2 linked regions of the Homo sapiens genome follow. The protein of the gene in region 1 interacts with the protein of each later gene in a biochemical or structural test. Each region holds a gene or a part of one and is shown on either strand. Other genes may lie near its edges.

Region 1 (7,030 bases):
GTAGGCTCCACCTCTGGGGGCAGGGCACAGACAAACAAAAAGACAGCAGTAACCTCTGCAGACTTAAGTGTCCCTGTCTGACAGCTTTGAAGAGAGCAGTGGTTCTCCCAGCACGCAGCTGGAGATCTGAGAACGGGCAGACTGCCTCCTCAAGTGGGTCCCTGACCCCTGACCCCCGAGCAGCCTAACTGGGAGGCACCCCCCAGCAGGGGCACACTGACACCTCACACGGCAGTGTATTCCAACAGACCTGCAGCTGAGGGTCCTGTCTGTTAGAAGGAAAACTAACAACCAGAAAGGACATCTACACCGAAAACCCATCTGTACATCACCATCATCAAAGACCAAAAGTAGATAAAACCACAAAGATGGGGAAAAAACAGAACAGAAAAACTGGAAACTCTAAAACGCAGAGCGCCTCTCCTCCTCCAAAGGAACGCAGTTCCTCACCAGCAACAGAACAAAGCTGGATGGAGAATGATTTTGACGAGCTGAGAGAAGAAGGCTTCAGACGATCAAATTACTCTGAGCTACGGGAGGACATTCAAACCAAAGGCAAAGAAGTTGAAAACTTTGAAAAAAATTTAGAAGAATGTATAACTAGAATAACCAATACAGAGAAGTGCTTAAAGGAGCTGATGGAGCTGAAAACCAAGGCTCGAGAACTACGTGAAGAATGCAGAAGCCTCAGGAGCCGATGCGATCAACTGGAAGAAAGGGTATCAGCAATGGAAGATGAAATGAATGAAATGAAGCGAGAAGGGAAGTTTAGAGAAAAAAGAATAAAAAGAAATGAGCAAAGCCTCCAAGAAATATGGGACTATGTGAAAAGACCAAATCTACGTCTGATTGGTGTACCTGAAAGTGATGTGGAGAATGGAACCAAGTTGGAAAACACTCTGCAGGATATTATCCAGGAGAACTTCCCCAATCTAGCAAGGCAGGCCAACGTTCAGATTCAGGAAATACAGAGAACGCCACAAAGATACTCCTCGAGAAGAGCAACTCCAAGACACATAATTGTCAGATTCACCAAAGTTGAAATGAAGGAAAAAATGTTAAGGGCAGCCAGAGAGAAAGGTCGGGTTACCCTCAAAGGAAAGCCCATCAGACTAACAGCGGATCTCTCGGCAGAAACCCTACAAGCCAGAAGAGAGTGGGGGCCAATATTCAACATTCTTAAAGAAAAGAATTTTCAACCCAGAATTTCATATCCAGCCAAACTAAGCTTCATAAGTGAAGGAGAAATAAAATACTTTATAGACAAGCAAATGCTGAGAGATTTTGTCACCACCAGGCCTGCCCTAAAAGAGCTCCTGAAGGAAGCGCTAAACATGGAAAGGAACAACCGGTACCAGCCGCTGCAAAATCATGCCAAAATGTAAAGACCATCGAGACTAGGAAGAAACTGCATCAACTAATGAGCAAAATCACCAGCTAACATCATAATGACAGGATCAAATTCACACATAACAATATTAACTTTAAATATAAATGGACTAAATTCTGCAATTAAAAGACACAGACTGGCAAGGTGGATAAAGAGTCAAGACCCATCAGTGTGCTGTATTCAGGAAACCCATCTCACGTGCAGAGACACACATAGGCTCAAAATAAAAGGATGGAGGAAGATCTACCAAGCAAATGGAAAACAAAAAAAGGCAGGGGTTGCAATCCTAGTCTCTGATAAAACAGACTTTAAACCAACAAAGATCAAAAGAGACAAAGAAGGCCATTACATAATGGTAAAGGGATCAATTCAACAAGAGGAGCTAACTATCCTAAATATTTATGCACCCAATACAGGAGCACCCAGATTCATAAAGCAAGTCCTCAGTGACCTACAAAGAGACTTAGACTCCCACACATTAATAATGGAAGACTTTAACACCCCACTGTCAATATTAGACAGATCAACGAGACAGAAAGTCAACAAGGATACCCAGGAATTGAACTCAGCTCTGCACCAAGCAGACCTAATAGACATCTACAGAACTCTCCACCCCAAATCAACAGAATATACATTTTTTTCAGCACCACACCACACCTATTCCAAAATTGACCACATAGTTGGAAGTAAAGCTCTCCTCAGCAAATGTAAAAGAACAGAAATTATAACAAACTGTCTCTCAGACCACAGTGCAATCAAACTAGAACTCAGGATTAAGAATCTCACTCAAAGCCGCTCAACTACATGGAAACTGAACAACCTGCTCCTGAATGACTACTGGGTACATAACGAAATGAAGGCAGAAATAAAGATGTTCTTTGAAACCAACGAGAACAAAGACACCACATACCAGAATCTCTGGGACGCATTCAAAGCAGTGTGTAGAGGGAAATTTATAGCACTAAATGCCTACAAGAGAAAGCAGGAAAGATCCAAAATTGACACCCTAACATCACAATTAAAAGAACTAGAAAAGCAAGAGCAAACACATTCAAAAGCTAGCAGAAGGCAAGAAATAACTAAAATCAGAGCAGAACTGAAGGAAATAGAGACACAAAAAACCCTTCAAAAAATCAATGAATCCAGGAGCTGGTTTTTTGAAAGGATCAACAAAATTGATAGACCGCTAGCAAGACTAATAAAGAAAAAAAGAGAGAAGAATCAAATAGACACAATAAAAAATGATAAAGGGGATATCACCACCGATCCCACAGAAATACAAACTACCATCAGAGAATACTACAAACACCTCTACGCAAATAAACTAGAAAATCTAGAAGAAATGGATACATTCCTCGACACATACACTCTCCCAAGACTAAACCAGGAAGAAGTTGAATCTCTGAATAGACCAATAACAGGCTCTGAAATTGTGGCAATAATCAATAGTTTACCAACCAAAAAGAGTCCAGGACCAGATGGATTCACAGCCGAATTCTACCAGAGGTACAAGGAGGAACTGGTACCATTCCTTCTGAAACTATTCCAATCAATAGAAAAAGAGGGAATCCTCCCTAACTCATTTTATGAGGCCAGCATCATTCTGATACCAAAGCCAGGCAGAGACACAACCAAAAAAGAGAATTTTAGACCAATATCCTTGATGAACATTGATGCAAAAATCCTCAATAAAATACTGGCAAACTGAATCCAGCAGCACATCAAAAAGCTTATCCACCATGATCAGGTGGGCTTCATCCCTGGGATGCAAGGCTGGTTCAATATACACAAATCAATAAATGTAATCCAGCATATAAACAGAGCCAAAGACAAAAACCACATGATTATCTCAATAGATGCAGAAAAGGCCTTTGACAAAATTCAACAACCCTTCATGCTAAAAACTCTCAATAAATTAGGTATTGATGGGACGTATCTCAAAATAATAAGAGCTATCTATGACAAACCCACAGCCAATATCATACTGAATGGGCAAAAACTGGAAGCATTCCCTTTGAAAACTGGCACAAGACAGGGATGCCCTCTCTCACTGCTCCTATTCAACATAGTGTTGGAAGTTCTGGCCAGGGCAATCAGGCAGGAGAAGGAAATAAAGGGTATTCAATTAGGAAAAGAGGAAGTCAAATTGTCCCTGTTTGCAGACGACATGATTGTTTATCTAGAAAACCCCATCGTCTCAGCCCAAAATCTCCTTAAGCTGATAAGCAACTTCAGCAAAGTCTCAGGATACAAAATCAATGTACAAAAATCACAAGCATTCTTATACACCAACAACAGACAAACAGAGAGCCAAATCATGGGTGAACTCCCATTCACAATTGCTTCAAAGAGAATAAAATACCTAGGAATCCAACTTACAAGGGATGTGAAGGACCTCTTCAAGGAGAACTACAAACCACTGCTCAAGGAAATAAAAGAGGACACAAACAAATGGAAGAACATTCCATGCTCATGGGTAGGAAGAATCAATATCGTGAAAATGGCCATACTGCCCAAGGTAATTTACAGATTCAATGCCATCCCCATCAAGCTACCAATGACTTTCTTCACAGAATTGGAAAAAACTACTTTAAAGTTCATATGGAACCAAAAAAGAGCCCGCATTGCCAAGTCAATCCTAAGCCAAAAGAACAAAGCTGGAGGCATCACACTACCTGACTTCAAACTATACTACAAGGCTACAGTAACCAAAACAGCATGGTACTGGTACCAAAACAGAGATATAGATCAATGGAACAGAACAGAGCCCTCAGAAATAATGCCGCATATCTACAACTATCTGATCTTTGACAAACCTGAGAAAAACAAGCAATGGGGAAAGGATTCCCTATTTAATAAATGGTGCTGGGAAAACTGGCTAGCCATATGTAGAAAGCTGAAACTGGATCCCTTCCTTACACCTTATACAAAAATCAATTCAAGATGGATTAAAGATTTAAACGTTAAACCTAAAACCATAAAAACCCTAGAAGAAAACCTAGGCATTACCATTCAGGACATAGGCGTGGGCAAGGACTTCATGTCCAAAACACCAAAAGCAATGGCAACAAAAGACAAAATTGACAAATGGGATCTAATTAAACTAAAGAGCTTCTGCACAGCAAAAGAAACTACCATCAGAGTGAACAGGCAACCTACAACATGGGAGAAAATTTTCGCATCCTACTCATCTGACAAAGGGCTAATATCCAGAATCTACAATGAACTCAAACAAATTTACAAGAAAAAAACAAACAACCCCATCAAAAAGTGGGCGAAGGACATGAACAGACACTTCTCAAAAGAAGACATTTATGCAGCCAAAAAACCATGAAGAAATGCTCATCATCACTGGCCATCAGAGAAATGCAAATCAAAACCACTATGAGATATCATCTCACACCAGGTAGAATGGCAATCATTAAAAAGTCAGGAAACAACAGGTGCTGGAGAGGATGCGGAGAAATAGGAACACTTTTACACTGTTGGTGGGACTGTAAACTAGTTCAACCATTGTGGAAGTCAGTGTGGCGATTCCTCAGGGATCTAGAACTAGAAATACCATTTGACCCAGCCATCCCATTACTGGGTATATACCCAAATGAGTATAAATCATGCTGCTATAAAGACACATGCACACGTATGTTTATTGCGGCACTATTCACAATAGCAAAGACTTGGAACCAACCCAAATGTCCAACAATGATAGACTGGATTAAGAAAATGTGGCACATATACACCATGGAATACTATGCAGCCATAAAAAATGATGAGTTCATATCCTTTGTAGGGACATGGATGAAACTGGAAACCATCATTCTCAGTAAACTATTGCAAGAACAAAAAACCAAACACCGCATATTCTCACTCATAGGTGGGAATTGAACAATGAGATCACATGGACACAGGAAGGGGAATATCACACTCTGGGGACTGTGGTGGGGTTGGGGGAGGGGGGAGGGATAGTATTGGGAGATATACCTAATGCTAGATGACACATTAGTGGGTGCAGCGCACCAGCATGGCACATGTATACATATGTAACTAACCTGCACAATGTGCACATGTACCCTAAAACTTAGAGTATAATAAAAAAAATAAAATAAAATAAAATAAAAATAAATGAAAAAAAAAAAAAATATATTTTTCTGATCATTAAATAGCAAGAAATAAAATAAGAAAAAAACGTATTCAGATCCCAAATTCAAAATCTAGTTTTCTCAGTTGCTTTAAAAAATCTCACTTACCCTTCGAGTGTTTTCAATAATTTTGGGATCAGGTTTTCCGTAGTTAGGTGGGTTGGCATATGGGTCATATCCAAGCTTGGCAAGCATAGGAGCAATCACTGCCATGTCTTGTAAAACATCTGGCGGTATCTTCCCAACCCATTTTGATAGAGCTCCTACATTGACTGGCTTGATTACTTGGTCTGTAGATCTCTCCACTCTGAAAACAACATAATATGAATAAATATTTATTTAAAATTTTTTAGAAAATCATGCTTTAAAACCACTATAAATTATGTTTTAATGACTAACAGTTGTCTGGATTACAAAACAATTGAGAAAGAGGGCACTAATCAGGTTTGACACTATTTACCAGAATTAAAAAATAATTTAAGATTGACAGGGATTATTGGCAATCTCAGATTTCTAGAAATTGGGAAAAGGGTTAGCTGAAACATGTGCATTATTAAATGTCTTGACACTGTAATTACAACATCCAGGAAAAAAACAGTAACAAAATAAAGATACAGCTGCTTAGAAAAATTGTCAGTCAACTTACTTGAAATGCTTACCAAAAAAAAGACAGACTGATGGATGGAAAGAGGGACAAATAGATGGTCAGAGAGATGGACAGTGATAAAGTAAATACAGCAACATGTTAATGGCACAATCTAGCTGGTGGGTATAAGTCTTTCAATTCTTCTGTACATTTTAACTTTTCGTAACAAAATGTTGGGGGAAAACTGCCAACCATAAACCACTAAGAACGTAAAATATTCACTTGTTCTATTTTCCTGCTGCCTTCCTTAAAAATCTTATTTTCTACAGAAGAAAAAAAAGGGCTGTTTTTGATTTTCAATATTACAGGATTCAATATTACAGAATAAATGTGTTCTACCTCTTGACATGGAAATTTACTCTAAGCCTGTAGTGATTATACTCACTATATTTGACTAAATAACTAGCAACCTCAGGATAAAATGTAGCATCAAATGACATTTGGATTTAAGCTGGATCTGAATTAGATTTTGGCCAAATGACTATAAAACAGAAATGCTTAAAAGAGACTTTTATATCGTAATACATAAAAAGTTATTCAAACATAGTATTCTAAGAAAAGGTAAAGGCCCTTTTAATTAAGAATATAACCTCTTAGTGAATAATCATTATCTGATGAGGAGTCTCCTAAAGGGGATCTGCTTCCAAAATAATAGAAAAACAATGCCTCTTCCCTGGGCTTCTGTGGGGCTACCTGCTCCAGGTTTCCCTCCTACCTCAGGAGCCACATTCCTTTCTCCCTTTTCAAATATTTCTCCAGGACTCCACTTAACCCACTGCTCCCTTCACTCTATCTATTCTCCCTGTATTGCTTCATCCCTAATGTTCTTTGCTTGACATTCTTAAACTGTGTAAA
Region 2 (7,030 bases), on another chromosome or scaffold:
TTTATAAGGCAAATATCAACAGTTGGATTACGCGGTGGCTCACGCCTGTAATCCCAGCACTTTGGGGAGCCGAGGTGAGTGAATCACTTGAGGCCAGGAGTTCAAGACTAGCCTGGCCAACATGGTGAAACCCCGTCTCTACTAAAAATAAAAAATTAGCCATGTGTGGCGGCGGGTGCCTGTAATCCCAGGTACTCGGGAGGCTGAGGCAGGAGAATCACTTGAACCTGGGAGGCGGAGGTTGCAATGAGCCAAGATTGCACCACTGCACTCCAGCCTGGATGACAGAGTGAGACCCTGCCTCAAAAAAAAAAAAAAAAAAAAAAAAAAAAAATATATATATATATATATATATATATATACACACACACACACACACACACATACATAAACAATTGAGGATTATTTTAATTTTTGAAAATTTTTAAAAATAATTTTAGCTTTTCTCTTTTTTCCCTAAATGTCTCCTTATTTAATGGAACATTTATTTTATAGTACAGTTAGTCTTAAGGTCCTGAGTCTTGTGATATAACCAGAAATTTCCCTGGCTTCTCTACTAGTATACATCATCATCCTTCATTTGTAACTTTTTGCTGTGTTTTCTCATCACACTATTCCCTCATGAAGAAGTTACGAAGGTAACATTTTAAACAATCTGCTTTCTTTCCAGGAAAGCCTTAAATAACCGCCCCCCCTCGCCCACCGCCTGCAAGAAAAGAAAGAGGTATATTTATTACTGGCCTCAGTTTTGAAAACATACAAAATTAGAATGTTATTTTAGATTTTAAAAGTACTAAATTTGGCTTTGATAATTATCCTTAGCTAGAAGTGAATTGGCTGCATACAAGTAGTAACAGCTCTTCTTTTCTACATAATTCTTCGACTTGGAAATACCATTGTTGTTTAGATTTTGCCTTTCATTTATTTACTATTTTCCTTTTTACTTTTTTTCTTGTTAAATTACCAACTTGAACAAAATTTACAGACCAGTTATAGTCTGTGTATTGTTAAAACTAATATTAGAGACATGCTTATGTGTACCTGGCCAAGATGTAGGTATATCAGAAATTCTTGCCCGGAAATATATTTTCCTGTTTGCTGAGAAGTTGATGAGCCTTCAGTTTTATAAAAGGCAAATAAACGAAAAGGCAAAACCAGCTCTCCAAGAGAATGTCAGAATAGGACTGAAGATTAGGTGATATAAATACTCTTTTGAGACGTTTACACATTACCTAGGAAACAGTCACTGACTGTATAAAAAGAGGATATAGAACTAAAAGCTATTTGGTTTGTTTTAGCTTTGAATAGGAATGATTAATTTCCTGCTGACCTTATGCACTGGAATTTTTGCTTTTGGGCTTGTCTTCATGTGTTTATAATGGTTAATATAAATTTTAGGAAATAGAATAAAAAATAAAGCAGCTCATTAAGAGCTATGGCCATGGTGAGTACTTAACATATTGGTGAGATACTGTACAAAATAAGCAGATGGCTGGATGCAATGGCTAATTCCTGTAATCCTAACACTTGGGAGGCCAAGGTAAGAGGATTGCTTGGGCCCAGGAGTTCAAGACCAGCCTGGGCAACATGGTGAGACACCATCTCTACAAAAAATTTAAAACAAAAAAATTAGCTGGACATGGTGGCACATGCCTGTAGTCCTAGCTACTCAGGAGGCTGAGTCAAGAGGATGGCTTAAGCCTCGGAGGTCGAGGCTTCAGTGAACCAGGATTGTGTCACTGCACTCCAGCCTGAACAACAGAGCAAGGCCTCAAAAAATAATAAATAATAGCACATAACAATTAACCACCTTTTGAATTGCTCTAATTTTATTTTTGAGGATAGTTAACAAATATTTAGCTTTCATTTGGCTCAGGAAGAATAAAAGACAATAAATCCTTAGGTGTAAATGAATAGAAGAGGTCAAACTTTGTGATTTATTTAAATAGTAGTAGTTACAAAAGGCCAGTTACATAACTATCTCTAAAAATATTAAATTGATTCCCAACTGTACTTATTTTTTTCTTATCTCTCAAACTATCAATAGATTCATTTAATCAATATTTAATGTGATTGAGGACACCCATTATGTGCTTAGGATTATGCTAAATATTAATACTAAGGTAAATATAAAATAGTATAGTATATGGTCCCTGCCTTCAAGAAACTTGCATTCTAGCTGGAGAGACAAAAAGATACATACTTTTTAAAAGTTAAGTAACCCGAAGGTCCATCAACAGCAGAATGGATAAAAATGAATCATCAAAAAAAAAAAAGAGTCATCCATTTGTTTAAATGAGTATAAATATGTTTTCTATACAGAATGAAAATGAACATTGTTATACAACATGTATATTTCTCACATTATGTTCAATAAAAAAAGCCAAACACAAAAATATACATACTGTATGATTCCATTTATATGAAACTCAAAAAACTATTGTATTTGAGGTTGCATATTTAGGTGGTACAATTATAAACAAAATCAAGCCAGGAATTACTATAGTTTTTAGAATAGTGATTATCTTTTTGTAAGGGATAGGGGAAGGAAAAGGGTGTTAGTAATTAGGAAGGAAAATGGAGAGGATTTCTAGATAGTAACAATTTTCTGTTTCTGGACCTAGAGGAAGTTTCATAGTTTTGTTTTTGTTTTTGTTTTTGTTTTTAAGACAGAGTCTTGCTCTGTCACCCAGGTTGGAGTATAGTGGCACCATCTTGGCTCACTGCAACCTGCGCCTCCCGAGTTCAAGCAATTCTCCTGTCTCAATCTCCTGAGTAGCTGGGATTACAGGCACCCGCCACCATGCCTGGCTAATTTTTGTATTTTTAGTAGAGATGGGGTTTCACCATATTGGTCAGGCTGGTCTTGAACTCCTGACCTCTCAGGCGACCCACCCAACTTGGCCTCCCAAAGTGCTGGGATTATAGGTGTGGCCTCCCAAAGTGCTGGGATTACAGGCGTAAACTACTGCTCCCGGCCTTTTTTATTTATTTATTTATTTTTGATACGGAGTCTTGCTCTGTCCCTCCTGGCTAATTTTTGTATTCTTAGTAGGGAAGGGTTTTCAGCATGTTAGCCAGGCTAGTCTTGAACTCCTGATCTCAAGTGATCCACCTGCCTTGGCCTCCCAAAGTGCTGGGATTACAAGCGTGAGCCACTGCACCTGGGCCATAGATCTTCACTTTGGAATAATTAAGCTTTTTACTTTGTTTTGTTTATTCTTCTGTGTGTACATTATATTTCACAATGCAAAATATTTTTTTTAAAGTAAACAACAATAAAAAGCAAGTTTTTGCATGTTAGAATGAGCCAAGGGAGTTAGAGAGAGGAGAAACCATCATGAGATAGAGTAATCCGGGGAAGAATAGAAAAAGGCAGTAAAACAAGCCATGCCTTTAAAAATGGGAGGATTAACATGAATGGAGAAAAGGAAACACGTTCTGGATGAGGGAACCTGAGTGAGCAAAGGTATCATGAGCTTGATGAGTTTGGGAGATAACTGTGAGTAGGCCAGTATGACTGAAGTAGGTGGAGAACAATGGGATTCAAAATCAGTAAATTCGATTTGGACCAGATTATAGATTTTGTTACCAGGCAGAGACTTTTAGACTCTTTCCTTTAGGGAAAAGAGAATCAGCCTAATGAAAACAGCAAAGCCCATTTCATTTTTGTGTCCAAATTAAGGGCTTAATAACATTTTTATGTTCTTTGTGAGTATGTTTTAATGTGTATATAATTGCTTGTTTTTACATGGTTTGGGATTTGTGACAAGTCAAAAAAGGAAAAAATCCTAAATGTTAAATTTTGTGTCCCAAACTCCCAAACTTTTACTGGAGAGTTCCCTAAGATCCTCTGTTTAGAACCCAGTATTATCATTTTTTTAGAAACTATGTGTCTTTCAAGCAGGCACGGTGGCTCCTGTCTGTAATCCCAGCACTTTGGGAGACAGAAGGATTGCCTGAGGCCAGGAATTCTAGACCAACCTGGGCAACATAGTGAGACCTCATCTCTACAAAAAATATAAAAATTAGCCTGGCATGGTGTCACATACCTGCAGTTTCAGCTACTTGGGAGATTGAGGCGAGAGGATTGCTTGAGCCCAGGAGTTCAAGGCTGGAGTGAGCTGTGTTTGTGCCACTGTACTCCAACCTGGGTGACAGAGTGAGACCCTGTCTTAAAAGAAAAAAAAAAATTCTTCTGAGGGGTAACTACCACAGACTGGTTTTAAAATATTAAGCATCTGGCCAGACGCAGTGGCTCACATCTATAATCCCAGCACTTTGGGAGGTTTGAGGCGGGCAAATCACTTGAGGCCAGGAGTTCGAGACCAGCCTGGCCAACATGGTGAAACCCCATCTCTACTAAAGGAAAAAAAAAATTAGCTGGGTGTGGTGGCATGCACCTGTAATCCTAGCTATGCTGATGGGAGAATCTCTTGAACCCAAGAGGCAGAGGCTGCAATGAGCCAAGGTCACACTACTGCACTCTAGCCTGGGTGACAGAGTAAGACTGCCTCAAAAAATATAAACTAATTAAATTAAATATTAAGTATCATTGTCTTATGAAAACAATCAAGAAATTTAAATATAATTTGAAGAGTATAACCTTTCAAGCACAGTTAAAATTAGATACTATCTCAGTTCAATAACACTGACCTCAACTGAGAAAGTAAACATTGAGCACAAGCCTGACCAAAATAAAATAGGTTTATCTCCTGTTGAAATCAGGAATCTGCTTATTTGTTATTATTGCCTTTGGTAAGAGTTTTGATATAGATTATTAACTCATGAACAGTGTTTTAATTGACTTGCTAATGTATAAAACTTTTCATTTATTAGAATCGTTTCTTAAGTTACCTGTAAGGGGAGTAAGCCAATTACTGCTTTTGACTCCTAGTGGTCTTTTCATTTCTCATCTATTTAATTTGTGGATAATGTTTTTCAACCATCCTCTCTTTCTTGGAAAGCTTTCTCCTAGTAATGCCATTTATTGAATACTTACTACTTACTGTGAAAGAAAAGCTTTTCATCATATTTCTCATGTCACTGTGGTAAAAATTGGCAAGAAGTATTATCCATTGGAAATATGGCAATACATTTTCACTTATTTGTTTAATCACCAAAAATTTTATTGAATGACTCATATGTCATAGAAAGAGAGAACAAAAACAATTGTCCCTGCTTTTGAGGTCAATTTATGGTTTAGTGGCATAGGGATGGTTGGAGATGCTGGGAGTAGAAGCCAGAAAGTCAGCAGACCATTTCAGAACAATGTGATATGTGTATAAGTGTGTTCTGAGTAGGAAGGAAACACAGAGGAAAAGCACGTAAATCAGATGGGTGGTGGGAAGGAGCAGTAGGAGAGGGAAGAAGAGATGTTGGGAAAGACTTACAGGAGGTGATAACTCTTTTTTTTGTTGTTTGTTTGTTTGAGATAGAATCTCATTCTGTCACCCAGGCTGCAAAGCAGTGGCGTGATCTTGGCTCACTGCAACCTCCACCTCCCGGATTCAAGCGATTCTGCTTCCTCAGCCTCCCAAGTAGCTGGTATTACATGCACCTGCCACCATCCCCGGCTAATTTTTGTATTTTTGTAGAGACGGGGTTTCACCATGTTGGCCAGGCTGGTCTTGAATTCCTGACCTCAGGTGATCCAACTGCCTTGGCCTCCCAAAGTGCTGGGATTACAGGTGTGAGCCACTGCGCCCCGCCAGGAGGTAATAACTCTTAACTGGAATAAGAGTGAGTTAGTCTGTAAAGAGACAGGTTCTAGGAAAAAAGAACATCAACTGGATGTTCCTAATAATTTCAGTGATGTGCAACTGGAATAACCACAGATGTCTGAAAGCATCCCATCTCCTTTTAATGAACTCCAGTGTTTTAAAACTGAAGTATGAGAGCTGAACATCCAGTTACATGCTTTATTGTTTAAGTTTTCTAAAATTGTGAAATACAGTGTATCCAGAAAATTGTATAAAGCACATATATACAGTTTAACAAGTAGTTTGAAAGCCAACAGTCATGTAATCACCAATAGAACAATATCAGCATCCTGGAAGGCTTCTCTTATGCCTGCCCCTAATCACATGCTGCCCACTTCCCTGTAGTTTTGACATGTATGTATATCCCTAAACAATATATTTTAGTTTTGCCTGTTTTTAAACTCTATTTTATTGGGTTAATATTTTAATGTATTCTTTTGATCAATATAATGTTTGTGAGATTTGTCCATGTTGTTGCATATAGTTTAATCCAGTTCATCCTGATTAATATTTCATTACATGAATATACCACTATTCATTCTATGGGTTAATGCACATTCAAGAGTTCATTATGAACAGTGCTGCTAAAATTCTCCTGGTACTTGTCAGTTATCTTTTTTCAAACAATCTACTGTTATCCACTATACGTATGGGAATTATACGTATGAAATTCATATGTATTTTTAATTATAAAGTATGTTAATGCTACGCTTTTTCAAGCTGCTGATGATCCTCCATCAAGTATAGTTCATCTTTATTAGCAATAGGAGATTAGAAGTAAAAGCTTCTTTAAAGCTGGTAAAAAAAATTCACTAATCAAAAAGTTTTTTTTTGTTTTTTTTTTGAGACAGAGTTTCGCTCTTGTTACCTAAGCTAGAGTGTAGTGGCACGATCTTGGCTCACCGCAACCTCTGCCTCCCGCGTTCAATTCTCCTGTGTCAGCCTCCCAAGTAGCTGGGATTACAGGCATGCACCACCACGCCCGGCTAATTTTTTGTATTTTTAGTAGAAACGGGGTTTTACCACGTTAGCCAGGCTGGTGTCGAACTCCTGACCTCAGGTGATCCGCCTGCCTCGACCTCCCAAAGTGCTGGGATTACAGATGTGAGCCACCACGCCCAGCCCAAAAAGGTTTTTAAAATCAGTCACAGTCAGTCAGTGTCCAACTTGTTGATTATTGGCTATGAATGAAGAAAATTGGCCGCCTTAAAAAGTGACTCAATCCTAAAGCATTTTATTATAATTAAAATATTAATAGCAGGCCGAGC

The links. The genes of interacting proteins can lie anywhere in the genome.
Region 2: the proteins of TPST1 (region 1) and GOLPH3L form a complex in vitro, tested with the Homo sapiens proteins (one study listed by BioGRID).

The regions. Positions count from the first base shown.
Region 1 is NC_000007.14:66,285,317-66,292,346, reverse strand, and holds part of TPST1 (protein-tyrosine sulfotransferase 1), read right to left. Parts: intron 5,837-7,030; coding exon 5,638-5,836; intron 1-5,637. UniProt on the Homo sapiens protein: Catalyzes the O-sulfation of tyrosine residues within acidic motifs of polypeptides, using 3'-phosphoadenylyl sulfate (PAPS) as cosubstrate.
Region 2 is NC_000001.11:150,687,152-150,694,181, reverse strand, and holds part of GOLPH3L (Golgi phosphoprotein 3-like), read left to right. Parts: intron 1-7,030. UniProt on the Homo sapiens protein: Phosphatidylinositol-4-phosphate-binding protein that may antagonize the action of GOLPH3 which is required for the process of vesicle budding at the Golgi and anterograde transport to the plasma membrane.